Regions from separate parts of the Homo sapiens genome. Here all the other regions are linked to region 1. The links come from fine-mapping of genetic effects on gene expression. A gene starts in region 1. Each other region holds a variant in brackets. All regions are shown on one strand. Distances are from middle to middle. Region 1 holds the start of EFHB (EF-hand domain family member B). Region 2 has its middle 390 kb from the start of SGO1. Region 3 has its middle 180 kb from the start of EFHB.

Region 1 (10,680 bases):
CTGTGACTGTGAAGATACCAGAGATGTTGACCCACATCTCTTATTTTTTTCCTAACATTTTATGATGAACATTTTCAAACATTCAGAAAATCAAAGTAATTGTACTGTGAACACCCATATATCTACCACCCAGATTCTACAATTAGCATTTTACTACACTTGGCTTTATCACATATGTCCAGCCATGTATCAACACTTTATGCATTTCAAAATTATGAGCATGTGTACACATTCCTTTAAACATTTCATCATGCATGCCATTTACTAGAGTTCAATATGTGAACCTTTTTAAAGTTCAAATATCCATAAAATGAAGTAAATGCAAGCGTCTTAAGAGTATAATTTCATGTTTTGACAAATGTATATACCTGTGTAATCCACATCCCTATTGAGATACGGAACACTACCGTAATCTCAGAAAGTTGCCACATGTCCTTTCCCAGTCAATCACAGCCCTTTCTCCTTTCAGAGTTGGCCTTGAGTTTGGAATGTGTGAAAATAGACATTCCAGGTGAAGGGAACCTAGGTGGCTCCCTCTCCAGCAAAGGCATGGAGGCAGGTAACTAGGGAAGAACACATAAATGTTAGTAAACAAGTTCGGATGGATGCCCTTCAGTCTTCCACCTCTCTCACTACTAAGCCCCGTCTTTTTGGGTCAAAGCATAAAACATTGAAGTAGAGAGGAGTTGAGTCAAGGGACTGTCAGGCCGCAGGAGCTAACAGTCTTCAGGGGAGGAGGAGACAGAAGCACTGACAGTCACAATTTAGTGTAACAAATGTTGAATGTTATCTTGTACCAGGGTCAGGGCTATAACCAAGGGAAGGGCAGAAAGTTAGGTAAAATACCACAAATATGCCACAAGCGTTTGTTGTATGTGTGTATGTCTGAGAGAGAGAAGTGATAAGGTGAGTGACTCAGACTCTTGGTACTGGAGGAGCTCAAAGGAAAAGAGAGAAGAGTATTTACCAGCCATGAAAAGTTTTCTGGAGGTAAAGTCTTAAGGGATGTTGACTGTTAAGTGTGGTAGACATAAAGATGTTTCAGTTACAGATAACAGAAAATGTGAGTCAAGCAGGGACATTGGCCCATGTGACTGGTAAGTCTAGAGTTATGTGAGTTTTAGGTACAGTTTGATCAGAGCTTTGGTCCTGATGATCTCGGTGCTCTCCTATTTTGTGTGTGTTAGCTTTGTCTTCAGAATACTTCTTCATGGTCACAATATGACTGTCTGTAGCAGTTTAAAAATTGAGCTGCTATAGTAAATTCTTGGGCATTCTCAATACTTGAGTATGGAACATGTGCATGTGGAAGGAAATAACATTGCACTTTATAAACACTGTATTGCAAATGGAAAATGCAATGTCTTAAATAAAACTATTTAAATTTGGCACCATAAAAAAAGAACTAAGGAGAAGAATATTTATATTAACCTTCTAGAAAGTTGTAGAAAATAGTTTTTTGTGTTTTTTTTTGAGACAGTCTTATTCTGTTATCCAGGCTGGAGTGCAGTGGTGCGATCTCGGCTCACTGCAACCTCTGCCTCCCCGGTTCAAGTGATTCTCCTGCCTCAGCCTCCCGAGTAGCTGAGATTACAAGTGAGCATCACAATGCCCAGTTAATTTTTGTATTTTTAGTAGAGATGGGGTTTCGTCATGTTGGCCAGGCTGGTCTCGAACTCAAGTGATCCTCCTGCCTCAGCCTCCCTAGTATATCCTTCTCACTTTTTATTTATTTATTTATTTATTTATTTATTTATTTATTTATTATTTTGAGATGGAGTTTGGCTCTTGTCATCCAGGCTGGAGTGCAATGGCGCAATCTTGGCTCACTGCAACCTCCACCTCCTGGGTTCAAGCGATTCTCCTTCCTCAGCCTCCCTAGTAGCTGGGATTACAAGTGCTGGCCACCATGTCCAGCTCATTTTTGTATTTTTAGTAGAAAGAGGGTTTCACCATGTTGGTCAGGCTGGTCTCGAACTCCTGACCTCAAATGATCCACCCGCCTAGGCCTCCCACAGTGCTGGGATTACAGGTATGAGCCACTGCGCCTGGCCTTATTTTTTATTTTTATTTTTTGAGACAGGATCTCACTGTATCACCCAGGCTAGAGTGTAGTGGCATGATCATATCTCACTACAGCCTTCAATTCCTGGGCTCAAGTGATCCTCCCACCTCAGCCTCCTGAGTAGCTAGGACTATAGGCATGTACCACTACACCTGGCTGATTTTTGAAATTTTTTGTAGGGATAGGTCTCACTGTGTTACCCATGCATGTCTTGAACTCCTGGACTTTTTTTTTTTTCAGTCTGTCGCCCAGGCTGGCATGCAATGGTGCAATGATGGCTCACTGCCGCATAGACCTCCTGGGCTCAAGTGATCCTCCCACTTCAGCCTCTCAGATAGCTGAGACTACAGATGTGAGCCACCACGCTGGGCTAATTGAATTCTTGGCGTTAAGCAATTCTTCTGCCTTGGCTTCCCGAAGTGTTGAGATTACAGGTGAGTGACTATGTCCAGACCCCTACACACTTTTAAAAAAATATTTTTGGATTTTAAGGGGTTTTTGTAGAGTTCTGGAATCCTGTAAATTCTTTTCAAATTCTGTTTTGCTTTTTTTTTTTTTTTTTTTTTGAGATGGAGTCTCACTCTGTCGCCAGGCTGGAGTGCAGTGGTGTGATCTCGGCTTACTGCAACCTCCGCCTCCCAGGTTCAAGCGATTCTTCTACCTCAGCCTCCCAAGTAGCTGGGACTACAGGCGCCTGCCATCAGGCCCAGCTAATTTTTGTATTTTAAGTAGAAACGGGGTTTCACCATGTTGGCCAGGATGGTCTCGAACTCCTGACCTCGTGATCCACCCGCCTCTACCTCCCAAAGTGCCGGGATTACAGGCATGAGCCACTGCGCCCGGCCATTTTTGGTTTTTTATTTTTAAATGGAATCTCACTCTGTTGTTCAGGCTTGAGTGTCGTGGCACCATCAAGGCTCACTGCAACCTCTGCCTCCGGGTTTAAATGATTCTCTTGCCTCAGCCTCCTGAGTAGCTGGGATTACAGGCGCTGGACACCATGCCCAGCTAATTTTTATATTTTTAGTAGAGACAGGGTTTCGCGATGTTGGCCAGGCTGGTCTCAAACTCCTGACCTCAAGTGATCTGCCTGCCTCGGCCTCCCAAAGTGCTGGGATTAAAGGTGTGAGCCACTGTGCCCAGCCTAATTCAGTTCAAATTCCAAGCTAGGGGTTTCATATCCTATATGTGTAGAACATGACAAATATTTACCAAATATACTTTCATTAAAATCTGAAAGGTGAAACCTCAATTTAAAAAAAAATCTCCTACTTAAAAACAATGAAGTTTTAGTTTGCCACATTATCTTTAAAATACAATATGCCTTATTGTGTAGCATATCTCAAACTTTAAAATATTTAGTTTAGGCCAGGAGCAGTGGCTCACGCCTGTAATCCGACACTTTGGAAGGCCGAGGCGGTGGATCACTTGAGGTCAGGTGTTTGAGACCAGCCTGGCCAACATGGTGAAACCCCGTTTCTACTCAAGATACAAAAATTAGCCTAGCATGGTGGCGCATGCCTGTAATCCCAGCTACCCGGAAGGCTGAGGCAGGAGAATCGCTTGGACCCAGGAGGCGGAGTTTGCAGTGAGCCCAGATTGTGCCACTGCACTCCAGCCTGGGCGACAAAGGGAGACTCCATCTCAAAAAAAAAAAAAATTACTTTAAATGTGATTTAAAGCCTAGTTGTTAAAGTGTAAGTGTTCTCAAGGACTTTAAGATGTCTTTATGCCACAGTTGTCAAATATAATATTTCTAGAATTTAAAGTCATTTTTTAGCACTAAAATAACTACATGCAGGGCGGAGGTACTTGGACAAGGAAGGACCTAAAAAAAGTGTTCATCACCAGAAAGTTTATTTGTTCATCATCACCAACATTAAGAGGCCAATGGCCAGGAAGAAGCCAATTGTTGAAACCATTCTAAAACGACTGTGTTGCTTGGGAAACCAGAGAAGTTGGTGAACATTTGATGCGCCGAAAGCCACATCACTCAAATTTTCTCGCCCTCCAAATCTAGCAAAGAAAAAGAGAGAGGAAGCAGGGATAGAGGGGAAGAGGGGGAGGGAGGGGAGAGAGGGAGAAAGGAGAGAGGAAAGGCAAGAGAGAGAGACACACAGAGAGGGAGAGAGAGGGAGAGGGCAAAGGAGAGGAGAGGGAGAGAGAGGAGAGAGAAGGGGGGGCAGAGAGAAACAGAGGAGAGAGAAGAGGGGAGAGAGAGAGACAGAGGAGAGAGAAGAGGGGAGAGAGAGAGAGATTGAGAGAGAGAGAGAGAAGAATGAGAGATGGGCAGGGATCTGTCCAAGCAGGACTTGAGCGCCAAGCCCCGCCCCTGTTTCCCAGGTAACCTGATAAACAGACTCCATCTTTTCCTCTGTGAACTCGGCTAGGTGTTAAGAGGCAGGCAGGAAGCAATGGACAGGGAGTCCGAGTGAGGTTGTGCTCTTTCCTGAGAGAGGGGTTCCGCAAGGGATTGGAGGCGTCTTTGTAGCCAGGTACAGCTTTCCCCTTAGAGATGAGCGCTCTTGGAGAAATGAGAATGGGGAGAAATCGTCCATGAACATGGAGATTGGACATCCCCACGAAGGAAAGGATGATTTAGGAGACAAGAGGGTCATCATGGGAACAAAATTTCCCATGGAGTTGGGGATCAGAGTAGGATTAGGAAAAGAAGATTCCCGATGCGGGGAGAGCCCTGTGGTTAGTAATAAGTGTGAGGGAAGGATGGCACCACCAGAAACAAAATTTCCATTGAGCAAGGGGCTTGAAATGGGATTAGAAAGACAGAATATTTCTAGGACTGTCATGCAGAGGGGTAGTTTAGGAGTCGACAGTGTCTCAGCTTCACAGGGAACAAAACCTTCTCTGTTGCCAGGAAGAATGGGGTTAGAAAATGAGAGTCTTCTTGCAGGATATACCCATGAACGGATAATACAGCCTCCTTTGGGCAGGGTGTGTGGAAGTTCACAGGCTGCAGGGAGCAGGAGAGCTCCTTTGGCTAGTGGCCCTGAAGGGGTAGAGGAATTAGTGGGAAAGCCTGCTTTCGTTATGGAACCAAGACAGGAAATGGAAAAAGAGTCTACCTGTGTTTTAATGAAACCCAACACAGAGATTAAGCTTCCTGTGGAGGTGGACATTGGACTAACCCAAGCCGAGGGGCCAGATGAGACTAAGAATACAGAGCCCCAAATGGGCTTGGTGATAGAACCTCCCCAATGCCAGTTTGCCCAACAACATGAACAGAGAAAGGAGGCTGGAAACATTGAATCAGGAGTGGAACCTCCAGATCGCATCAGACCCATATACTCTGGGAAGTTTTTTGATCGGACCCCTTGCTGGCCAAGTGTAAGTTTTTTTCCACTTTCCATAGGAACTAAACTGTGTATAGCCATGTCTTTATTGAGATGATAAAGTGATAAAATTTGTTTTGGTTTGAAGAGACAAATCACAAGGATTTTATGAGATTCCTATATTTCTTGCCCCACTGGAATCTTTGCAGATGTTACTTAGATTTCTGATTCTCTGCCTCCCTTCCTAGATGTCAGCTTTGTTTTCTCTGCACACCGGTGGTTTGTTCTGATTTCTCTTTTCTCCTTTAACCTTCATTTCATTTTCCTCAAGCCTCTCACATATTGAAATACATGAAGATACATGCTGTGCCCTAATATTCATACTATGAATGGAAAAGAAAAGTGTTTCTTTTTCCATTCATTGTTTAGTCTGTGAGTTATTTGTTCTTTCAGCAAAGACTTGTGGTAGCCATTGTGCCAGGTACAGGACAAACTAAATTGAAAAGTACATGGTCCCTACCTCTAGGTTTAGGCTCACTCCAGTAATGGAGACAGATAACTAAAGGAATAGTATACAGTTATCTAAATTTATAAAAACACACATGATTCTTCCTTCATAGAAGTACACTCTGAATACAGAGCTCAGTGTAAAGATTGCACAATTCTGTTTAGAAGAGATGGGAAAAGCTTAATAGGGAAAGTAATATTTGAGCTAACATCGAAAGGTGTCAGTATTTGTCTGAAGAAAGAATGAGGTTAGAGCATTTTGGGCATAAAAAGGTATAGAGCACAACCAAAGCTTCCTATGTTCGAGAGGCATAAACAGTTGTATTCAGCCAGCAGGGTGTTGAGAGATGAAGATGAAGAAGAAATATGTAGAAGACATCTAAAGGCCCAGAATATAGGGATAAAACATATGGATACAGTATCAATGGTGGATCTTAATAAGGGTAAAAATAAATAAAATTTGCCTTTTAGAAAGATAATTCTGATATCAGTAGTTATGATGGACTGGAAGGGGGAGATACTGAATGACAAGTAGGTAGTTAGAACAACATTCCAAAGTTCTGATGGACTGGAATTAATGTAGAGTTAGAAAGAATAGAAAGGAGACTGCACTTTTGAGAGGTTTTTAGATGACATTTTAAAAAATTGCCACTCAGTTGTGGATCTACGTGGTGAGTAAGGGAAGTTGGTGGATGACTCAGGAGTTTCTGTGTTGATAATGATCTCTTTGGGTTTGGTGGCAAATGAATGTCCAGTGTTGGCTATCTTCAATATGAGATGACAGGTAAAGAAGCCAGGGAAACACTTGGTAATATGAGACAATTGATGCCCCATGGGTGTGAATGGGAGAAGAAAGTCAAGGCAAGAATCTTGGGAAACATTGACATGAGGTGGTCAGTGAAAAAGATGTCAATAAGGTGAGTTCTTGAGGGCAAGGACTATATCTTGTTCATTGTTTACCTTCATGTCATACCACAATACCTGGCTTATGGTGGTCATTCAATAAATACATGTTTGATAAATAGAAGGAAACCCGGATGATTAAATGGGAGAAAGACCAGTCGGAGAAGAAAAAAGTAAGTCTGAGACATTGGTATTGAGAAACATAAGAAAGTGTCCTTAAGTTATAATGTGAGTAAGAGATTCCACACACTGAAATTTGAAAATAAAACTCAGCTGAAGAGGTCACAGGGCTTCCACAGAATTTTGTCTGGGTTTGAAGACTTTTCCCCTTCAGACTCAGAATGTTCTTTTCTTCTTTGTCTCACACTGCTTTCTGGTTTCCTCTTTGGGTTTTCCCAGCCACTTTACTTGACCACACCGGTTCCCATTTCTGGATTGGTTCTGCAATTTACAGCTTCTGATCTGATCTGATCTCACACACATGCAGACACCAGCTTCCAGTTTCCAGCACAGGCAATTCTAAAACCTCTGCTTCCTCCCACTTCGCATACCTTCCTTTCTAAATGTGATAGGACAAGAAAGAGAGTGTCAAGGAGAGAGTGACCAGCAGTGTTAAATCATCTCTGATAGGCCTTGTGCAGTGGCACTAGCTGTAATCCCAGCACTTTGGGAGGCTGAGGCAGGAGGGTTTTTTTGTTTTGTTTTGTTTTTTGAGACAGAGTCTCACTCCATCACCCAGGCTGGAGTGCAGGGGTGCAATCTCAGCTTGCTGCAAACTCGGCCTCCCAGGCTTAAGCGATTCTTGTGCCTCAGCCTCCCAGTAGCTGGAATTCTAGGAGCATGCCACCACACCCGGCTAATTTTTTTTCCTTCTTTTTTTTCTAAATTTAATTTTTGTATTTTTAATAGAGAAGGGGTTTCGCCATGTTGGCCAGGCTGGTCCCCTACTCCTGACCTCAAGTGTTCGGCCCACCTTGGCCTCCCAAAGTGCTGGGATTACAGGCATGAGCCACCACGCCCAGCAGGCAGCAGGATTTCTCGAGGCCAGGAGTTTGTCATCAGCCTGGGCAACATAGCAAGACTCTGCCTATACAAAAAAGAAAAATTAGCCAGGTGTGGTAGTATGTGCCTGTAGTCCTAGCTACTTGGGAGAGGTGCGAAGATCATTTGAGCCTGGGAGTTCAAGGTTCCAGTGAGCTATGATCACACCACTGCATTCCAGTCTGGGTGACAAAATGAGATCCTGTCTCTAAAAATAAAGTAAAAATAAGATTAATTAACTTTGGACATTAAGAAATTACCAACATTGTTAGAACGACATAATAGAAAAAGAATTCAGATTATAATATACTGAAGAGCGAATGGGTTATTAGAATCGGAGAAAGCTATCATGAAATTTTTTTCTCTTAAGAAGTATGACAGTGAAGAGAAAGAGTAAATATTCCACTTAGAAATCTTATTATTTAGTGAATCAGTGGAGGAGTTTGAGATAACACAAAGGAAGAGAATGGGTGGAACCAGATTCTAGATGAGTGGAAGGGAATGGAATTAGGATTATAGGCAAGAGGAGGGATTCTAACTTTGTTAGAAACAAGGCTTCATTTAAAAATAATTTTTAAGATGTTAAAATATTTATTTTGATTATAACACAAGAATAATAACATTATAGAAAATTTAGAAAACAGGGATGAAAATGCCTAGAATCTTATCACCTTAACACAATGCCTATTAGCACTTTACTGTTTCACGATTATTAATATTTATTGGTGGCTTACTATATTAATATGGCTATTCATAGACCTTTGCAGGTATTAATTCGTTTGCCCTTATTGCAACCTGTGAGTCATCTACTATTACTAAATCCTATTTTACAGGTAAAGAAATGGAAGCAAATTTAGGTAATTCGGCTAAAGTCATATAGCTAAAAAGTGGTGGGATTTGAAATCTCAAATTCCTATTTGAGAGCCTGAGTTGTTAGTTACTCTATACTTTTTATGACACTTTTATCCAAATGCACTTTTATGTAGTTGTTATTATCGAGTGCAAAATTTGTTTTGATTTTTCATTTGTTATTTATAAGATTTAACTATTACTACAAAGACTTCAAAAAGATCTTTTAATGATAAAAAATATTTAAGCCAATTCTTTTTTTTTTTTTTTTTTTTTGAGATGGAGTCTCACGCTCTCGCCCAGGCTGGAGTGCAGTGGCACCATCTCGGCTCGCTGCAATCTCCGCCTCCTGGGTTCAAGCAATTCTCCTGCCTCAGCCTCCTGAGTGGCTGGAATTACAGGTGCCTGCCCCCACACCCGGCTAATTTTTTGTATTTTTAGTAGAGATGGACAGGGTTTCATCATATTGGCCAGGCTGGTCTTGAACTCCTGACCTCGTGATACACCCACCTCAGCCTCCCAAAGTGCAGGGATTACAGGCGTGAGCCACCACACCTGGCCAAGCCAATTCTTTAGTTAACTCTTTCCCTCTATTGTTGGGTATTCATTTTTTATTCTTCCAGAATTTTCTATAAAATAGTTTGTCAGCCAGGCATGGTGGCTCATGCCTATAATCCCAGCATTTTGTGAGGCTGAAGTGGGAGGACTGCTTGAGCCCAGGAGTTTGAGATCAACCTGGGCAACATAGTGAGACCTTGTCTCTTAAAAAAAAAAAAAGTTAAAAAAAAAGTCTTTTTATATGTATTGGAATATTTGCTTAAGGATAGAGTTTCAGCAGAAGCCAAAAGCATGGATCTTTTTCTAGTTTCTATTGCCAAATCTCTTCCTAAAAGATTGTAGCAATAAATTTTAAAAATCATAATAATTTGTTAGGCATTATTTTAATTTATGTTTCTTTAACTTATAATTAGATTGAAAATTGCTCCATATGTTTGTTTTTATTTTTTTTTAATCCTTGTGTGTGGTCACCTTGCTGAACTCTTATTAGTCATAATTGCTTATCATTATTTCCTTTTTTAATGACTATTTTGCTTGTGTATGGATATTTTAGGTTGACAATCATATTGACACTTTTGTCCTTTTCTCTTTAGTATCTATACCTTTCATCTATCTCTATTTCCTACCTCACTGCATTGGCTATGATAAGAAAAAAAATACAATATTAAAAACAATGTCTTTTGGACGGGCACGGTGGCTCACCCCTGAAATCCCAGTGCTTTGGGAGGCCAAGGCAGACAGATCACCTGAGGTCAGGAGTTTGAGACCAGCCTGGCCAATATGGCAAAACTCCGTCTCTACTAAAAACTAAAAAATTAGCTGGGTGTGGTGGCAGGCACCTGTAATCCCAGCTACTCTGGAGGCTGAGGCAGGAGAATCACTTGAGCCTGGGTGGCGGAGGTTGCAGTGAGCCAAGATCGCACCACTGTCCTGGGCGACAGAGCGAGACTCCGCCTCAAACAAACAAACAAAACAACAACAAGGTCTCTTTTCTGATTTTGATGGGAATGATTATAATGTTTCACTATTACATGTGATTTTGTGGGAGATTTCTGATATTTAAAGTTAAGAACACTTGTATCCATTTCCAGTTTGCTAAGAAAGTTTAAAAATCAGGACTAAACAATCTGTGAAAAGCTTTTCCCACATTTATTGAAATATATATTTTTTCTGAATTAAAATAGTTCATTTTCTAAGGGTAAACCATCTTCATATTTTTGGCCTAAGCCCTCCTTGTGATATATTATGTTCATAATATATCCCTGGATTTGACTTGCCAGTGTTTCACTAGGATTTTTGTATTTGTGGTTCTCTGTAAATTTAGACAGTAGTTTTTCTTTTTGTGCTTGGTATTAGGGTAACGCTAGTATATAAAAAGAATTGAGAAGCTTCCCAGCTTTCCAACTGTCTTTATGCTTTCTTTATATGTTATGTATAGTATTAGCTACTATATTATTTACTATATAT
Region 2 (10,680 bases), 650 kb before region 1:
TGCGAGGTATTTAGGTCTCCACGGTGGATCTTTCATGAATGTGTTGGAGCTCTCCTATTGGTTATGAGTGAGATTTATGTTTTTTTATGTGGTAACATATATCTGAAGTGTTCACACTGGGACAGAGGATTCTTTTCACCCCTGAAATAGTAAGGCTGTGATTTATCTAGGTTGGTTGTCCACTCATCCATCCTAAACCAGAGGCACACGTCTCAGAAAGTCCTACAATGTATATACATCACTTACTGTCCTTCGGTTGCACATGTAAGAGCCAAAACCAGCAAGAACTACTGTCAAAGTAGAATTATCAGTTTACCTAAAGCTACTTTATTCTCCATAGTTATCTTGATATGTATCTGCTAGCTGTGTGACCTTAAGCAAGATACTTCTTTGCGCTTCTGTAAAATGGATCCAACAAGAACACACAGTAGGAATCGTATGTGGGATAAATAAGACACCACTGTAAAATATTTAGCATGGTACCTGACACATAGCACTCAATAAAGTTATATTTCAAAGTCAAAGAATTCAGAGAATTGCTATTATGTTATCGATAAGCGTTTTTCAAAGCATCTAATGAAGGATCATATTAACCCTACCCCTGGCCCTTGTCCCACCCCAGGTCATCATAGACCAACTTTTCTGCATTGCACTGCTTGGAAGTCATGACGATTTCCAATTACTTTAAAAGTTTCAAAATGTGTGCCTTCAATTTCTGAACATATGTCATTGTAAGCCACTATGTTTGTGGACCAACATCCACCCACAAAACATACTTTGAGTAGCACTTTAATAGAACACCATCATTGTCTCCTAAGACAGTAAAGTCAAAATAATGAATTGTCACCATCCTGTTTTTTTTATTTGAATTCTTTGAAATTATCTACATAGAATAGGTGAGGCTCCAGTGTATAAATACAAAATTGAATGGATAAATGCTGGCAATATGTGCATATTCAAGCAAATACATGCACTTGATCAGTTTCTATAATCGAAGAAAAAAGAATTTAGGGAGTCAGAATTATCAAAAATTATGTATAAATTATCTCAAGGATTGTGTATCAAAGTATTTTCAACTTTATTTATATTCACTTGACAGTGTCAATTCCTCCATCAGAAAAAAAAATAGGTGAAGTACTCTACATAGCAGTGTAATGTTATTAAAAAAATCAGAATACTACAGTAAATTGCATCATTTATCAATGTAGTTGATAGTAATTCTACACCAGACCTGCACTTGACACAGGCATGTAACTTATTACCAGTCCCTAGCCATCAGAACATGCACAGAAAAGTATTTTCAAAAGCACTTACTATTTATTCAAAGTGTTTTGAAGTATGAGAAGAGCTAAATTCCTAAGCAGTCAGTATATACTTAAAGCCAAGCACACTTAAAATCATAAATGAATAGTTTTGACTACTAAAGGAAAAATAGTCAATAATTAATTCTACAATTACTTTTTATGTACACCAATACAAAATAATATTTGAAGTTTCTAATATTGCATATAAATTACTACTTATAATGAAAATGTAACCAGTTGATTTTTTATTAGTTTTGACTTACTATTTCTTAGAAAACAAAACCACCAACAAAATAAATACCTATTATGCTTTAAAATTTTAAATTAGGCTGACTGCAAATAAATTAACAGATGTTACATTTATCTCCTTAAGTAGTTCCCTACTCTTGAAGTATAAACTCATTATATTTCTGCTAATAATAATATATATTACTTTATGTATAACGTGTTAGATAATCTTAGAAGAATCAAGTTGAAAAGTTTTAAACTATTACCCAGTTAAAACTGACCATCAGTCAGTTTTCTTGAGTAACAGAAATCTTCATGTTTTGTGGCTGAGGAAATAAAAATGTAAATCGCACTGGATACCCCTACCCATCTACTAGAATAACAAAAGGAAACAAATAGGCAACACAAAGTTCTGGCAAGCATCCAGCACCACAAAAACTCATACATTTCTGGTGGGAATAAGAATGATGCAGATCTTTTTAATAACAGTTCAGAAGTTCCTTACAGTCACTTACTACATAATTCAATAAATTTACACCTAGGTATTTTCCCAAGAAAAATGAGAATATATGTAAGATTGGAGAGTTGGTACTATGTGTGATTGTGACTGGGTAACAACTATGGTTTGTAACAAATACCAATAGCACCAAGAAGGTCTGCAATGCTTAGCTTTCTTAAAGTAAATATCACAGCAATTTTTAATGTTTTTTATTTTCTTAATTGAAAAACAAAAAAATATATATATTTACTGTGTAAAACATTATATGTTGAAACATATATACATTGTGGAATGGCTAAATCAAATTAACATATGTATTACCTCATATAGTTATCATTTTTCTAATGAGAACCCTTAAAATCTACTGTTAGCATTTTTAACCATAGTCACCACATTGTACAAAAGATTTCTTGAACTTTTTCTTCCTATTTATAGGAAATTTTGTGTCCTTTGACCAAAGTCTGTCCAACCCCTACTCCCTCATCACCACCCCAGCCTCTGGTAACCATCACTCTACTCTCTACTTCTATGAGTTCAACTTTTTAAGATTCCACATATAAGTGAGATCATGTGGGGTTTGTCATTCTGTGCCTGGCTTACTTCACTTAACATAAAGTCCTCCAGGTTCATCCATGTTGTCACACATGACTATTTAATGGCTGAATAGTATTCCATTGTGTATCTATGCCATATTTTTTTAATTCATTCATCCATTGACAGACAGTTTGATTTGCTATCTTGGCCATTGTGAATAATGCTGCAAAGAACGTGAAAATGCAAATATCTTTTCAACATACTAACTTCACTTCCTTTGGCTATATACCCAATAATGGGAATGCTGGATATTATGGTAGTTCTGTTTTTAATTTTTTGAGGAGCCTCATACTGTTTTTTATAATGACTACACTAATTTTACATTCACAGCAATAGTGTGTAAAAATTTCTTTTTCTTGGCCAGGCGTGGTGGCTCACGCCTGTAATCCCAGCACTTTGGGAGGCCAAGGTGGGTGGATCACCTGAGTCTAGGAGTTCGAGACAAGCCTGGCCAACGTGGCAAAACCCTGTCTCTACTAAAAATACAAAAATTAGCTGGGCGTGGTGGCCAGTGCTTGTAATCCCAGCTATTCAGGAGGCAGAGGTAGGAGAATCGCTTGAACCCGGAAGGCAGAGGTTACAGCGAGCTAAGATCGCACCACTGCATTCCAGCCTGGGCGACAAGAGTGAAACTCCATCTCAAAAAAAAAAAAAAAAGAATTTCTTTTTCTTTACATCCTCACCAACACTTATCTTTCATCTTTTTTATAAAAGCCTTTCTAACAAGTGTGAGCTGATAACTCCTTGTGGTTTTAATGTGCATTTCTCTGATGATTAGTGATGTCGATCATTTTTTCACATACCTGTTGGTCATTTGTATGTTTTCTCTTGAGAAATGTCTGTCTACGTTCTTGCCCCATTTTTAAATCAGGCTATTCATTTTCTTGCTATTGAGTTCCTTATATATTTTGGATATTCACTTCTTATCAGATATATGGTTTGCAAATATTTTCTCCCATTCCATAGGATGTCTCTCCATCCTGTCAATTGCTTCCTTTTTTATGCAGATTTTAACTTTGATGTAATTCCATTTGTCTGTTTTTGCTTTTGTTGCCTATTCTTTTGGGGTTACAGACAAAAAGAAATCATTATGCAGATCAATAGCATGGAGCTTTTCCACTGTATTTTTTCTGATGGTTTTATAGCTTTGCATGTTATTTCTAAGTCCTTAATTCATTTCGGATTTATTTTGGTATATGGTATGAGATAAGGGTCTAATTTCATTCTTCTGCATGTGGATATAGTTTTACCAACAAAATTTATTTAAAAGATTGTCCTTCACACATTGTGTATTCCTGGCATCTTTATAAAAAAATCAGTTGGTCATAAATGCATGGATTTATTTCCAGTCTATTCTGTACCATTGATCTATGTGTCTATTTCCATGCCAGTACCATGCTGTTTTTGATTACTGTAGCTTTGTAGCATATTTTTAAATCAGATAATGTGATAATTCCAGCTTTATTTTTCTTGCTTAAGATCGCTATGGGTATTTGGGGTCTTTTGTGGTTTCATATGAATTTGGGGATTGCACTTTTATCTTTTCAAAAAACCAACTCTTAGTTTCATTGACCTTTTATATTGTTTTTCTACTCTATTTCTGCTTTCAGCTTTATTATTTCCTTCTTTTTACTAATTTTGGGGTTAGTCTGTTCTTTTTCTATTTCCTTGGGGTGCAGTCTTAGGTTGCTTACTTGATCTCTTTCTTCTTTTTTTGATGTAAGCATTTAGTGCTATAAAACTCCCTGTTAGAACGACTTTTGCTTCATCTCATAAGTTTAGTATGTTGTGTTTTCATTTTCATTTGTCTCAAGATATTTTTTAATTTCCCTTTTAATTTCTTCATTGACCCACTAGTTGTTTAGGAGTAAGTTGTTTAATGTTTATGTATTTGTGAATTTTTCCACAAATTCAAGGTGTTTTTGATATCCAATTTCATACCATTGTGATCAGAAATGATACATAATATAATTTCAGTATTTTAAAATTTGCTAAGACTTACTTTGTGGCCTAACATATGATCTACCCTGGAGAAGGTTCTGTGTGCACTTGAGAAGTATGTGTATTCTGCTGCTGTTTGGCAAAATGTTCTATATTGGTCTGTTATGTCCCATTTGGTCTAAAATATAGTTTAAGTCCAATATTTTCTTGTTTATTTGCTATCTGGATGATTGGTCCATTGCTAAAAGTGGTATATTAAAGTACCCTATTATTGTATTGCAGTTTATTTCTCCCTTCAGTTCTATTAATTTTTTTTATATTTAGGTGCTCCAATATTGAATGTATTTACAATTGCTATCTCATCTTGCTGAACTGACCCCTTTGTCATTATAAATTACCTTCTTTGTAATTACCTTCACTTTACAGTTTTGACTTAAAGGCTATTGTATTTGATATAATTTTTAACCTGTGCTATTTTATGGATTCTATTTGCATAAAATATCTTTTTCTATCTCTTCACTTTCAGACTACTTGTGTCCTTACAAGTGAAATGAGTTTCTTTTAGGCAGCAAATGGTTGTGTTTTGTTTCTTATATTCATTAAGCCACTCTGTGTCCTTTGTTTGAAGAATTTATTTACATTTAAGATAATTATAGATAAGCAAGAACTTACTACTGCCCTTTTGCTAATTGTTTTCCATCTTTTCTTAAGTCCTTTTTCATCTTCTCTTGCTGTCTTCCTGTGTAAGTGGTTTTCTATAGTGCTATCCTTTGGTTCTTTGCTATTTATTTATTACATATCCACTATTGGTTTTTGCTTCAGGGTCACCATGAGGCTTATGAAAATATAACAGGCTGTTTTAAGCTGTTAACAACTTAACTTTGATCACACACACACACACAAACTCCACATTTTTACTCCACTCTCCTTCTATATTTTGAATTGTGATGGTATAATTCATATCTTTTATATTGCATATCCCTTAACAAATTATTGTAGCTATTATTACTTTTAATAGTTTTGTCTTTTAACCTTCATACTAACGATGTAATGGTTTACATGCTATTATTAGAGTATTCAAGTATTCTTCTGACTGTGTGCTTACTTTTACCTGTGAGTTTTATATTTTCATATGTTTTCATGTTACTAATTAGCAACCTCTTCTTTCAGCATGAAGAGCTCCTTTAGCATTTATTGTAAGACAGATCTCATGGTAATGAACTACCTCAAATTTTGTTTGTCTGGAAAAGTCTTTATCTCTCCTTTATTTCTGAAGAACAGAATTTCCAGGCACAGTATTATTGACAGATGGGGTTTTTTTCCTTCAGAACTATAAATATATCATCCCACTCTCTCCTAGCCTGTAAAATTTCTGTTGAGAAATCTGCTAGCCTATTGGAACTCCCTTAAATATTACTTGCTTCTTTTTTCTTGCTGCTTTCAGAATCCTCTCTGCTTTGATTTTTGACAATTTGATTACAATATGTATTGGGCTAGGCTTGTTCAGATTGAACCTAATTGTAGACCTTTGACATTCCTGTACCTAGATGTTTGTATCTTTCCCTAGGTTTGGAAAG[T/C]TTTCACTATTGTTTTTTTAAATAAGCTTTCAACACCTTCGTCTTCCTTTTCTCTTTCTTGAGGTCCTTTGACTTGAAAATTTGCTCTTCTGATGCTGTCCCACTACTCCCATAAACTTTCTTCATTACATTTCATTCTTTTTTTCTTTTTGCTCCTCTGACTGCATATGTTCAAATACCCTGTCTTTGAGTTCAGATGTACTTTGGCTTGATCAATTCTGCAACTGATTCTCTCTTGCTCTTTCTCTCTCTCTCCCCCCCTTCTCTCTCTCTCACACACACACACATACACATACACACATTTTTCATTTCATTGATTGCATTAGCTCCAGAATTTCTATTCAATTTTTTAAACATTTCTATCTCTATTAAATTTCTCATTTTGGTCATTTATTGTTTTCTTCATTTTTTTGAATTGTTTCTCTGTATTTTTTTTGAAGTTCACTGAGCTTACTTAAAACAGTATTTTGAATTCCTTTTCAGGCTACTCAAACATTTTTATTTATTTAGAATCATCACTGGCACTTTATTTCCCTTCAGAGATATCATGTTTCCCTCATTGTCCTTGATTTTTCTGGCCATGCATTGGTGTCTGCCCATTTGAAGAAGTATACATTTAATTATGTCTTTATAGGCTGGCTTTGTCTGGGAAAGCCCTTTACTTGCCAGCCCATTCAGAAACTTTGGGCAGGCCTTCTGGCATAGTTTATTGGAAGGCTTGCTGCTGGAGTCATCTAGCTACTGGCATGGTGCCTGGGTCTGCCACTGGGTGGTCCTGGATCCACTAGAATGGGCCTGTCAAGTAGGTCTACTGGGGTGAGCCTGGAGCCTATACCCTTGAGAACTAACATGACACCTATGTCCACAGAGGCTGACTTGGCACTGACATGGGCTGTGAGTCTGAATCTGAAGGGGCTGGCCGGGCAGTAGGATGGGTCTGAAGTCTGTGTCCTCTGGAACGGGCCTGGATCCTAAGTCTTCAAGGGTAAACCTAGGCCTTAGGTCCACAATGTCTACTCTGAAGCTTGGATATGTAAGAGTGTTGCTGGAGACTCACTCTGCTGGGGAGCCTAGAGTCTGTGTCCATGTGTGTTGACATAGTGCCTAAAGCCATGTGCAAATCTGGCACTGGAACAGGCATGACACCTAGGGCTGTGTGGATCAACTTAGTTCTGGCCTTGTCTGGATCCTAGGATGGGCCTGGTGTCTGGGGGTGCAGGAGCTGTCCTAGTGCTAGATGGACCTGGAACTTGTATCTGGAGGGGCTGGCCATGGGTGCTGGCCTAATGAGCCATTACCCCCTAATGGCTTTGGGGGTAGATAGTGCTGTGACAAGCCTGAAGCCCAGGGCCATAGGGGTCAGCCTGACACTGGGGGTGGTCTGGAGCCTGGGGTTATTGGAGTCAGCCTGACCCTGAGCAGGTCCAAATGCTGGTGCCACTGGTATAAGCCCAAGGCCCAGCTCCACTGGAGCTGGCCTGGCACTAAGGGTGGTCTGAGGCCTGGAGCCACTGAGGTCAGCCCAGTGGTAGGGAAGACCAGAGGTTGAGTTCAGCAGGCAGGCCTGGAGCTTGGTGCTATGTGATAATAGCAAGGCACTGGGGCAAGTGTAATAACTCAGTCTGCAAGTTTCAGTCTGGCGCCTGGGTCCACAGAAGCCTGCCCCGTGCTGGGTTTTACTACAGTGGCCTATGCTGGGGTCCAAGGCAGAATCTGGTCCTTACTTCCCTGTCCTTCCCACATGCAGAGAGCATCCTTCTCCACACTGTGCTGCCTGCATTTGGGTAAAGGGTAATGCAGTTAATGTAAAACTGTTCTTTTTGACCTCTTCAATACATCTTTTTTTTTTCTGTGCTACATCCCGGTGTTGTGATCTCTTACCTGGTTCCCTTAGCTCTTGTGAAGGTATTTTCACACATGAATGGTTTTTCAAATTAATGTTTCTGTGGGGAAACAAGAGTGGGAAAGTCCTATTTCTCTATCTTGCTCTTTCCCTTCTCCTATCACAGAAATTCTAAACCGCTTTCAGGCAAAAGCTGTTACAACAAAAAATTAGAAATAGGTGTGTGCAGATACAGACATATCAAGAATATGAAGGCATGTGGCCACAATACAATGACCTAAGACAAAATCTTTGCAGGATTTTTTCAGTAACAGTGCAGTAAATGAGAAAATACATATTCCAGATATTATCCTCTCAGAAATACATATTTCTAGTTTGTGTCAACAAAATAAGCACATGCATTTATTTAAGGAATTAATATGTTTTTTCATCAGGATGATGTGAACTATGTAAGTTCAAATTTACTTCATCAAAAATATGTGGCACACAAAGAAAATAATGTGGCCTTTGGAGCAAACATACCTTCACCTTAACTACCGAAATGGATCTTCAGAGCACCAACTTTTAAAAAGATCTATTATTTAATGATATCCCTGTGTCCAATATCTTTTTTAGTCATTCCTTTGCAATTACCCTCAGGGCTTCTTCAAAACCTACATGAAGTGGCAATCATTATTATCTGAAAATTTCCAAAAGCAAAATCTATCTCAGAGCACAACAATTCACCATCTGGTTTTTATCCCAAGAAGGACTGGTTATGTAATGAATCTAAGTTCATATAACTAGCCAAGGAAACTATTTTAAAAGGGAAAACAAAGCTTTAATAAATACATACTTGTTTCCAGCACGGAGAATATGGTAACGTGAGTAGGCACTTCACTCAGGCAAAACACTTAAGAGAAGATATGCTCCTAACACACACACACACAAAATTAGCTATTGAGGTAAATAATATAATAATGCAACATTTTTACGTAAGTTTTGATTTTAAAAATCTAAATGATATTTTGTTAATCACAATTTTTTGCACCAATTTTAAAAAATGAAATCTAAGTTAATGCAAAAAATTATGATTAACAAAATATCAAATTTTAAACAAACCCATAGTTCAAATCTGCACTAGCATAAATCACTTCACTTACCTGATTATTTGCTGGTAGAAAAGAAAAGAAACCCCAAAGGCATACAGAGGGAAAGTAAATCATCAGATTACCTTGTCATTATATCTTAACTCATGGAGACAGGTATCATGAGCTCAACCTGAGCTGTCGGAGGAGAGATCTGAGATTTTACACAAAGGAGGGATCCAACCACACTTCTCCAAAACTACTGGGAATACAAATGTGGTTTCATGAATGGTAAAATTCAAATTACACCAGCTTGTTCTCCAAACTAGGTAGTATAGAATTTCAGACTCTTGCAATTACCCTACGAGGATAGCTCATATGTAGTCAGGAAGAGAACTTCCTCAGGGACTGCCTTACACATATTCAAAGTTGGAGCTGGAGAATGTTATATTATACCCACATTCACATACAAAATTCTATTTGAACCTGTGGTGATCACCTGTCTCTCACACTTCACATACATGCTTAAAGGCAGCAGAGGGACTAGGCAGGGGCGCCTTTCTTAATCTAGTAGCTGTTTTAAAATAATATAGCTCTAATAATATGAATGCTCATTCTAATAGTATGCTTGCTCATTCTAGAAATATGGGGTTTTGAGTCACATGATAGCTGTATTCTAATTGTCCAACGCTTATCCATGCATTCTGTGCTGAGTCAATCTTGGTATATCTTTATCTGCAGAAAAGAATGATGAGGCCCTCAGAGAGTAACTTGGGTTGGGTGGCTGCAAGGTCTGAATTGGATTTTCTCTGTTTCTCATTTAGTATTCCTGCTGAGTCAGACTTCTTCTATTAGGGTTAATGGAGGAGCTAACTTACCTCAGAGGGGTATTGAAAGGAGCAGTCAGCATGATTAACACTGAGACTGGCAAAACACTGTAAATGAAGACCAGTTCTCCTCAGCATGTCAGGTAAAATTGAGGCTACCATTTCAATAATTCAGCCTCTTTTACCTCTGTTACACCCACAATTATCTGAGATATTTTTGTCATTTTAGAAGGTCATTCTAGGTCAGGATACATTGGATTCGTATCCACAAAATCTCAAGAATGCGAATAGGTCTCTGCATCCCTCAACTTCCCGGTGGAAGTGCACTGAAATTTTCTGGCATTATTCACCATCCTATTCCCACGGGTATGAGTAGGAGAGTCTTCATTCCAATGTGTGTGTTTTATGCTCAGTCCCAGAGCTTCTCCTCCTCCTAGCCACAACATCTTAGCCCAAGGCTCTCTTAAAGTTTGCTCTTACTTGGAGTCCACCACCTACACTGAGTCTCTTTTTTTTTCTATTGATAAATAGACATCCTCATGTCTCTCCTATATAGTTTATGCATTCATTTAACAAATGAATTCAGTGTCAGACACTGTAAAAGAAATTTATAACAGTCAATAAGGGGTATATCTGCTTTCATGGACTGTATTTTTAGAAATAGCTGGTGCTTTATTCCACGGCTACTATAACTTTTCCTTCGAACATAAGTGTCTTGGACAAAATGCACACTACCATCCTCATTTCTCTCCATAGCCCACCGCATTCCGGCTTTCATTTCCACAAAATCCTATTATGTC
Region 3 (10,680 bases), 180 kb after region 1:
AAATCACAACTTTATTAATTGGACTAACTCTTTTTAGTCCAATGTTTAACCTTTTTTTGGTTATATTTGGAGCTAAAAGTTGCTCTACTTTATGAAATATGACAGAATTAAGTTTTGTCCAATTGTGAAAATAAAGCTGTATTAATATGATTCGCTACAAAACAATATTTTCACAAACTTAGTGGCTTAAGACAGCACACATTTATTATCTCACAGTTTCTGTGGTCATGGCTTAGCTAGTTCTCTGCAAGGATGAAATCAAGGTATCAGACAGGGTTGGGTTGTTATCTGAAGACTTGAATGGGGAAGTATCTCCTTCTAACCTCACGTGGTGGTTGACAGAATTTAGTTCCTTGAGGTTATAAGGTAAAGGGTTCCCAATTTTTGCTGTTGGCTCGAGGTCACCGCCAGTTCCCAGAGGCTGTCCTTAGTGTCTTGCACCATAGGCCTCTGAATCTGGTCACGTGCTTCATCAGATCCAGCAAGGGAGAGAGTCTTCTTGTAAGATGGAGGTCACAATTCTATGAAACGTAATCATTCAAGTGACTCACCATCACTATTGGCTAAAAGCAAGCCACAGTTCCCACCAACATTCAAAGGGAGGGGATTTTACAAGGGCATGGATACCAGGACATAAGGATCTGTGTTACAGAAGTATATGGCTGAAGTATAATGACTATTAACATACCAGTAAAAAATTAACATATCAGTCAAATACGTTTTCTTAGACTTTTTGTCCCACACAATGTCAAGCATCATGTGCAGGAAGTATCTACATTCACAAAACTAACTGATGGAACATAGGAGAAAAAATACCCTTAAACTCATTTGAATGTAAATTTGTCATTTGGAACTTGGTTTAGTCAGTTTAATTTTATGAATAACGTTATCAGAAATTCTTGCTTTGATGCTTTAGTTTCATGTTCACAGAGTATTGTAAACAAAAGTTTACCTCACAGAGACATCAATTTGTCTATTAAGAACTGATTTGGGATATTTTAAAAGGTGCAGCCAATTAATTTTGGGAGCTGCAGGCAAGAATAAATAGGCCTTGTCACTATTGTTTGATGGAGAGGTTTGGAAAAATCCTTGACTACCTTTCCTAACCCCAAACCAGAAACTTCTGTATCTGTAGCATTTGATGGTATTTACCCAAATTGACTAGTAAGTCTATGCCTTAATTTTCAGTTTAGCCAATTCCGAAAATAGTGGGCTCTTGGTTGCATTTCTATCTCTGAATCTCAAAACTAAAGAACATAAATCAGAATAAATTTTCCAGCTTATGATTATTTCTATTTCTGAATAAAATTGCTGTCTTTCTTCTGGAGTTGAAATCAGAAATGTTATTAGATGAAAAATATCTGTTAAATGTCCTTGTGATCCTATCTCCAGGAGTAATCACGGCAGACAGTTGTAGTTTAAAATCATTTCTTGCACTGTTTTAGGAATAGCTGGAAGCATAGTATGCTGAGTAGCAATGTATGTACATCATATATATTCTAAAACTCTAAGTTTTCCAGCTTTTGAAAAGGAAAAAACTATGTATAAAATAAAAAAGCCACAAAAGTACTTAACAAAATGTTTCTTCAGTTTCTCTTTTGAGATTATTATTTATTCTGTATAACTTTAAATGATCCTTTTTTTAATTACAAAAAGAAGAACAAAATAATTACCTCTAATACCAGTAGCATGAGATGATCAATAATGTTTTGGTCTATTTCTTTCTAGCCCTATCTTTATGTATAAATGCATTCATAAATGCATTCATATAAGTTTATTATTATGTTATATTACGTTTATTGTACAATTATATATATTACATATATTATGTGTGTGTTTAAGCATATATGTATTTTAACATTTTTGTTTGTATCCCTTGACAATATATCAACATCTTTCATGATCATTAAATGTCACTTATAGTATCGTTTATGATGGATCTGTTTATTGGGAGAACATATTATTTAAACATATACATTTACTTTTGACTATAAAAGCAATTTATGTTTCTAACACTGTGTCATGGTGAATTTCACACACATAGGAAAGTGGAGACATTTATTTACTCAACACTCAGCCTCACAGTTATTCGTACATGATCTATCTTATTTTTTCTAACTCTCTACCCATTCCTCCCACCCCTTGGATTATTAGAAAGGAAATCCCAGACATATTAAAATATTTCATCTGAAAATATTTCAGTATCTCTTTAAAATATAAGACCCTTAAAAAGTATAATCACAACACCATTTTCTTATTTAATATCCAGTTAGTGTTCAGATTTCCTTGAGTATTTTATAAACGTTAATTTGTTTGAATTGGCATCCAAAAAGCAACACATTATTTTTGTAAAAAATGGAACACTACAGATGTTCATGATGCAGAAAGTGAGTAATTCCTCCTCTGCCCGAATTCCACTCCCAGTGATAACTGTGTGAGCATTTATCTTGTATATTGTTCCAGATCCAAGATAATGCCTTTTCTGTATCAATCTAATGACTCCCAAGTGATGGCTATTCTTTCTGTCTTGTCTTTGAACAAATACATGTTTTAGCATATAATAATTCTAATTGTATATATAATTGTATATATTTTCTTATCTGGTTTTAATGTCAAGACATTTTGTATCCCTAAATAAAAGATGGAAGCAGAGCTTAGGAAATATCTGAAAGAGAGCAAAGTATCAATTGATAAGTTAGAAGATTTATGATCATGTTTATGAATTCATTTTCTCTGATATGTGAGTGCCTAATTCTTCCATAAACATGCACTTGCTAATACAACACATTTTAATTTTAAATGACCATATCAACATCTAACCAGATGCCATTTCAATAATTTATAGACCAGTTAGTCTTTTCACTGCCAACCTCACAAAGGAAGTACATTTGTTTGGTGAGAGATGAGAAGGGCACCCAGCTTCACTGTTTTCTCCTAAATGAGAAAAGCAGCTTTACATTTCCTGACTTTTACAACCTTTCCTTCACTTCTGACAAATTCCAATCTAAAAACACTGTCTTTTGGAAAGAGTGTCTATAATCATTCTGTTGCTAATAACACTGCCATGTCCACTTGTCTTGTACAGTTCTTATAAAGTGTCTTTTTCAGAGTCTAAAAGTAAGGATTCGGTGTCTTGCTTATTTTAAAAATCCCACCACAGGTCAGGCACACATGGCTAACACCTGTAATCCCAGCACTTTGGGAGGCCACAATGAGCAGATCCCTGGAGCTCTGGCATTGGAGACCAGCTTGGGCAGCATGGTGAAACCCCGTCTCTAGGGAAAAAAAAAAAAATTAGCCAGGCACAGTGGCATGTGCTACTCAGGGGGCTGAGGTGGGAGGATCTCTTGAGCCAGGGAGGTCAAGGTTGCAGTGAGACGAGATCGCGCCACTGCACTCCAGCACTCCAGCCTGGGCAACAGAGTCAGACCCTGTCTCAAAACAAAAACAAAAACACGGCAATTTTACACATAATGGTGGCTTAATTAAAGATATCTTACTGCTGTATGTGTATCACTTGCTTGTTTAAAATATTACTATGCTAGTTACTATTTCTGCATAAGAAATTACTACAAAATTTAACAGCTTAAAACAACTTTTTCTTTTTTTGTGCCCTTGGATTCTATGGGTGAGGAATTCAAATAGGTCTTAATGGCAATAAATTGTCTCTGGTCCAGAATGACTAGGGCCTTAGCTGGGAGGACTATAAGGCTGAAAGTGACTTAATGGATGGTGGTTGGAATTATTTGAAGGCTTGCTTACTTGCATGTTTGGTTCTTAGGCAGGAATGACTCAAAAACTAGGACTACAGCAGGAGTGGCATCTCTGTGTGGTCTGAATTCCTCACAGCATAATGTCATCAAGATAGGTGGACTCAGGGATCAAAATTTGAGTGTTCCAATGAACAATGTGGAAACAGTGAATTTTTATGACTCAGGCTTAGAAGTCACACAGTAGTGGGAAAGCAATGATCCTTGGATGGTAAGTGCAGGAGTAACCATATGGCTCTAGTCACATTGCTTTGAACACCAATTGTATTGTAGATGTGTTTGA[G/A]TGCCATTAGTACAACAATGGGCAATAAAGCATTCTTTTGTTTTTTGTTTTTTTTTTTTTGGTTTGTGTGTGTGTGTGTGTGTGTGTGTTTGGTCAGCATGACGTCAATCACAGCTCAAGAATTCTATACATGTCTGCATTTCATATTGCCACAATAGTTTTGTTGTGGCCTGGTAGACGATAATTTCACATTTGAAAAGGGTGGTTTAATCAATAAAGACCAAGAGTTTAAAGTGTGGTTTAATATATTTTCCATGATGCCTGTCCATGCTCCATGGCATCCTGTTTTTGTGCTTTTTTGTTCATTGCATTTCCCTTGCCAGGAATGCTTCCTATCTGCCTCTCTGTGTTAAAAACTTTCCCACCAGTCAAGCTTTTATTGGCATTGCTATATAGGTTATCTTCATAAGGATTCCAGCTTTTAAAAGTTGGAAAAAAAAACTATTCCGACATAAAAGCAATTAAGTATACAAAGGTTGATTTCAAGACTCAAATGTCCAGCAATGTGTCTCTTGGAATTATACATCTTCCAAGGTTACTGTTTCCTACCATCTTCTCTCTCTGTGACTTTTTCTCTTTTCTCCTCCTTCTTTTAGGTTGGTGTCCTCAGCTCACATATTTTTTTAACTAAAACTTTTTTTTAAATTCAAGGAGTGCATGTGCAGGTTTGTTATATGGGTGTACCGCATGATAATGAGGTTTGGGCTTCTATTGATCCCATCACTCAAATAGTGAACATAGTACCCAATAGGTAGTTTTCCTCTCCTCCCTCTTGAAATCCCCAGTGTCTATTGTTCCCATCTTTATGTTCATGTATACCCAATGTTCAGCTCCCACTTATAAGTGAGAACATGCAGTATTTGGTTTTCTATTTCTGCAATTATTCACTTAAGATAATGGCCTCCAGCTGCATCCATGTTGCTGCAAAGAACAAGATTTTGTTTGCCTTTTTGTGGGTGTGTAGTATTCCATGGTATATATATACCACATTTTCTTTGTGCAGTCCACCGTTGATGGGTACTTGGGTTGGTTCCATGTCTTTGCTATTGTGAATAGTGCTGCAAGAAACATATTAGTGCATGTGTCTTTTTGGCAGAACAATTTATTTTCTTTTGGGTATATACCCAGTAATTAGATTGCTGGGCCAAATGGCAATTCCATTGTTAGTTCTTTGAGAAATCTCCAAACTGCTTTCCACAGGGGCTAAACTAGTTTACATTCCCACCAATAGTGTATAAGCTCTATTTTCTCTGAAACCTTCCTGGCATCTGTTATTTTTTGATTTTTTAGTAATAGCAATTCTGAATGGTGTGAGATGGTATCTCACTGCAGTTTTGATTTGCATCTCTCTGATGATTAGTGATGTGGAACATTTTTTCATACTTTTTTTTGGCCATTTGTATGTCTCCTTTTGTTCAGCTCATATTTTAATGAGGTATGGCAGTCATCAAATGGGAAGGTGTTCATGTACCTTCCACCAGATCTATAAGCATACCTGCATCAGCCCCATCTTCTCTATCTTTGCTCCTATTATACCTGAGGAAAAGTGAAATTCTCAAAGACTTTATTCTTTCTCTAACTCCTCTCTCTCTCTTCCATTATCATTACTTCCTTTCCACTCAATATTCTCATCAGCCAACAACACCAATAACCTTTGGATCCTTTATCTAAACGAAAACTCTCCATTGACTCCCACATTCTTCTCCAGCTACAAGCCATGTTCAATTCCTTTTCACAGCTAAACTTGTAAAAGAATTGTCTGTCACATGAAAAATGCTCATCATCACTGACCATCAGAGAAATGCAAATTGAAACCACAATGAAATACCATCTCATGCCTGTTAGAATGGCAATCATTAAAGAGCCAGGAAACAACAGATGCTGGAGAGGATATGGAGAAATAGGAACGCTTTGACCCTGTTGGTGGGAGTGTAAATTACTTCAACCATTGTGGAAGACAGTGTGGTAATCCCTCAAGGATATAGAGCTAGAAATACCATTTGACCCAGCCATCCCATTACTGGGTATATACCCAAAGGATTATAAATCATGCTACTATAAAGACACATGCACACGTATGTTTATTGTGGCACTATTCACAATAGCAAAGACTTGGAACCAATCCAAATGTCCTCAATGATAGACTGGATTAAGAAAATGTGGCACATATATACCATGGAATACTATGCAGCCATAAGAAGGATGAGTTCATGTCCTTTGTAGGGCCATGGATGAAGCTGGAAACCATCATTCTCAGCAAACTATCACAAGGACAGAAAACCAAACACCGCATGTTCTCACTCATAGGTGGGAATTGAACAACAAGATCACTTGGACACAGGGTGGGGAACATCACACACCAGGGCCTGTCGTGGGGTGGGGGGCTGGGGGAGGGATAGCATTAGGAGAAATACCTAATGTAAATGACGAGTTGATGGGTGCAGCAAACAAACATAGCACATGTATACCTATGTATCAAACCTGCACGTTGTGCACATGTACCCTAGAACTTAAAGTATAATAATAAAAAACAATAATAATAATAAAAGAATTGTCTGTACTTCTGGTTTGACAAAACCAGAAAAGGCAGCATGACTTCATTCTAGAAATCCCTAGTTGTCCTTCCCCCTAAGAGAGGGGACTAGAAATGCAAACTCATCTTAGAGAACAACAGAAACACAAAATCACAAAATACATGGATGGGCTGCCAAAAACAAAGAGGAACAAGGGGGACAGTGGAGCAAAGATACCTACAACTTATAGACCTCAGAGAGCACAAGGGCACTCTTTTTCAAACTGAAAGGTCCTTCTTGAAGTTCAAAATCCGAATTCCTTATTGCAACAAGGGAAGCAAGGTGAAAGGAGAAGGTGCAGAAGCTTCCCTTAATATGGTCGGTTTTGAAAGTGAAGTTTGTGCTGAACAAATCATGTCACAGAGAAAATCCATATTGCAGGAAACTATTAGTGAGGCAGGGTAGTGGGGAGAGACTACACTGAGTCTTCAGAAAGCTGCTTCACTCCACTGGCAGGGGAGAAGTATAGGACTGAAGAATATGTTCCATTGCAGGTCATAAGGAAAGTTCTCCTAGCCTGGAACATGGCCTTGTTTCTTTCTACACAATCAATTTACCCATAGCTTGAGGAAGAATATTCCAAGATAAATAAATAAATAAGAAAGAGAAGCAGAAGTTAAACAAAAACAGTGCAAATACCATTTGACCCAGCCATCCCGTTACTGGGTATATACCCAAAGGATTATAAATCATGCTACTATAAAGACACATGCACACGTATGTTTATTGTGGCACTATTCACAATAGCAAAGACTTGGAACCAATCCAAATGTCCATCAATGATAGACTGGATTAAGAAAATGTGGCACATATATACCATGGAATACTATGCAGCCATAAAAAGGATGAGTTCATGTCCTTTGTAGGTACCTGGATGAAGCTGGAAACCATCATTCTCAGCAAACTATCACAAGGACAGAAAATCAAACACCGCATGTTCTCACCACATGTCCCTAATAAAAAGGGGCATTAGGGACAGAAAAAAATATAAGAAAATTTGCCGTGGAACAGATAAAAATTGTGTGTATAGGATGGTTCAACACACACAAATCAATAAACATGATAACATCATATCAACAGAATCAAGGACAAAAAATGGTAATTTCAATTGATGATAGAAAAGCATTCAATGAAATTCAACATCCTTCATGATAAAAACTCTTAACAAATTGGGTACAGAAGGAACATGCCTCAACACTGTAATGGTCATATATAACAAATCCACAGCTAGTATCATATGACGTGGGGAAAAATTAGAAGCCTTTCCACTAAAATCTGGAACAAGACAAAGATGCCCACTTCCATTTTTTTTTAAATTTTTTTATTATACTTTAAGTTTTAGGGTACATGTGCACAATGTGCAGGTTTGTTACATATGTATACATGCGCCATGTTGGTGTGCTGTACCCATTAACTCATCATTTACATTCGGTATATCTCCTAATGCTATCCCTCCCCCCTTCCCCCACCCCACAACAGGCCCCAGTATGTGATGTTCCTCTTCCTGTGTCCAAGTGTTCTCATTGTTCAATTCCCACCTATGAGTGAGAACATGCGGTGTTTGGTTTTTTGTCCTTGAGATAGTTTGCCGAGAATGATGGTTTCCAGCTTCATCCATGTCCCTACAAAAGACATGAACTCATCATTTTTATGGCTGCATAGTATTCCATGGTGTATATGTGCCACATTTTCTTCATCCAGTCTATCATTGTTGGACATTTGGATTGGTTCCAAGTCTTTGCTATTGTGAATAGTGCCGCAGTAAACATACGTGTGCATGTGCCTTTATAGAGCATGATTTATAATCCTTTGGGTATATACCCAGTAATGGGATGGCTGGGTCAAATGGTATTTCTAGTTCTAGATCCCTGAGGAATCGCCACACTGACTTCCACAATGGTTGAACTAGTTTACAGTCCCACCGACAGTGTAAAAGTGTTCCTATTCACATCCTCTCCAGCACCTGTTGTTTCCTGACTTTTTAATGATCTCCATTCTAACTGGTGTGAGATGGTATCTCATTGTGGTTTTGATTTGCATTTCTCTGATGGCCAGTGATGATGAGCATTTTTTCATGTGTCTTTTGGCTGCATACATGTCTTTTTTTGAGACGTGTCTGTTCATATCCTTCGCCCACTTGTTGATGGGTTTGTTTTTTTCTTGTAAATTTGTTTGAGTTCATTGTAGATTCTGGATATTAGCCCTTTGTCAGATGAGTAGATTGCAAAAATTTTCTCCCATTCTGTAGGTTGCTTGTTCACTCTGATGGTAGTTTCTTTTGCTGTGCAGAAGCTCTTTAGTTTAATTAGATCTCATTTGTCAATTTTGGCTTTTGTTGCCATTGCTTTTGGTGTTTTAGACATGAAGTCCTTGCCCATGCCTATGTCCTGAATGGTATTGCCTAGGTTTTCTTTTAGGGTTTTTGTGGTTTTAGGTCTAACATTTAAGTCTTTACTCCATCTTGAATTAATTTTTGTATAAGGTGTAAGGAAGGGATCCAGTTTCAGCTTTCTACATATGTCTAGCCAGTTTTCCCAGCACCATTTGTTAAATAGGGAATCCTTTCCCTATTTCTTGTTTTTGTCAGGTTTGTCAAAGATCAGATGGTTGTAGATGTGTGGCATTATTTCTGAGGGCTCTGTTCTGTTCCATTGGTCTATATCTCTGTTTTGGTACCAGTACCATGCTGTTTTGGTTACTGTAGCCTTGTAGTATAGTTTGAAGTCAGGTAGCATGATGCCTCCAGCTTTGTTCTTTTGGCTTAGGATTGACTTGGCGATGCGGGCTCTTTTTTGGTTCCATATGAACTTTAAAGTAGTTTTTTCCAATTCTGTGAAGAAAGTCATTGGTAGCTTGATGGGGATGGCATTGAATCCATAAATTACCTTGGGCGGTATGGCCATTTTCACAATATTGATTCTTCCTACCCATGAGAATGGAATGTTCTTCCATTTGTTTGTATCCTCTTTTATTTCATTGAGCAGTGGTTTGTAGTTCTCCTTGAAGAGGTCCTTCACATCCCTTGTAAGTTGGATTCCTAGGTATTTTATTCTCTTTGAAGCAATTGTGAATGGGAGTTCACTCATGATTTGGCTCTCTGTTTGTCTGTTATTGGTGTATAAGAATGCTTGTGATTTTTGCACATTGATTTTGTATCTTGAGACTTTGCTAAAGTTGCTTATCAGCTTAAGGCGATTTTGGGCTGAGACGATGGGGTTTTCTAGATATACAATCATGTCATCTGCAAACAGGGACAATTTGACTTCCTCTTTTCCTAATTGAATACCCTTTATTTCCTTCTCCTGCCTGATTGCCCTGGCCAGAACTTCCAACACTATGTTGAATAAGAGTGGTGAGAGAGGGCCAAGATGCCCACTTTCATCACTTTTATTCAACATAGTACTAGAAGTCCTAGCCAGAGCAAGTGGCCCAGAGAAAGAAATAAAGTGTATCCAAATTGGAAAGGAAGAAGTCGAATTAACCTTATGGTATGTAAGGCATGTTGCAACAGCTATAACCATTAAAAACATATAACTAATTGTTTAATAAAGGGGAAAATGGAAGTAAAAATGCCTAATGAGTATAGCAGAAGACGAGAAAGGGGAGAAAAAGGAATATAGAACAGATGGGGCAAATAGAGAACAAACAGCAAGATGGAAGACGTCAGCCATGCTACATCAGTAGTTACATTTAATGAAAATTGAATAAGTACTCCAATTCAAGGCAAAACAATGGTTAAATCAGATTTCAAAAGTCCTGTATGTTGCCTAAAAAAGCCATATTTTAAATATAAGGGCACAAAAAAGTTGAAAGTAAAAGAATGAAAAATAATAAGCCATATATACTAGTAGAAATTTTAGTGTGTTTATACTACTACCAGACAAAATAGACTTAAGGCAAGAAGATTGCTAGGGATGAAGAATATTTATCAATAAATTTCAAAAGATTAAAATCATAGAAATGAGAGGAGTGTCGTTCAAAATTTTCTTCTGTTCCATAACAGTCACATCAGTAACACAGGCTGTGGGAGCAGTGGAAGGCAGTCTACTCTGAT

What was found.
Region 2: its variant is fine-mapped to the expression of EFHB in coronary artery (GTEx, PIP 0.98).
Region 3: its variant is fine-mapped to the expression of EFHB in sun-exposed skin (GTEx, PIP above 0.99).

What each region holds. Positions count from the first base shown.
Region 1 is chr3:19,927,960-19,938,639 of GRCh38, reverse strand. It overlaps EFHB (EF-hand domain family member B), which reads left to right and starts at 4,423. Exons shown (of 13, transcript NM_144715.4): 1 at 4,423-5,410. The coding sequence starts at 4,622. RefSeq lists a silencer at 7,129-7,423.
Region 2 is chr3:20,574,470-20,585,149 of GRCh38, reverse strand. No RefSeq gene overlaps it. Among named protein-coding and RNA genes, the nearest start is that of SGO1, 390 kb to the right of the region's middle. The variant T/C (reference allele first, on the strand shown) is at 6,144.
Region 3 is chr3:19,751,171-19,761,850 of GRCh38, reverse strand. No RefSeq gene overlaps it. Among named protein-coding and RNA genes, the nearest start is that of EFHB, 180 kb to the left of the region's middle. The variant G/A (reference allele first, on the strand shown) is at 4,054.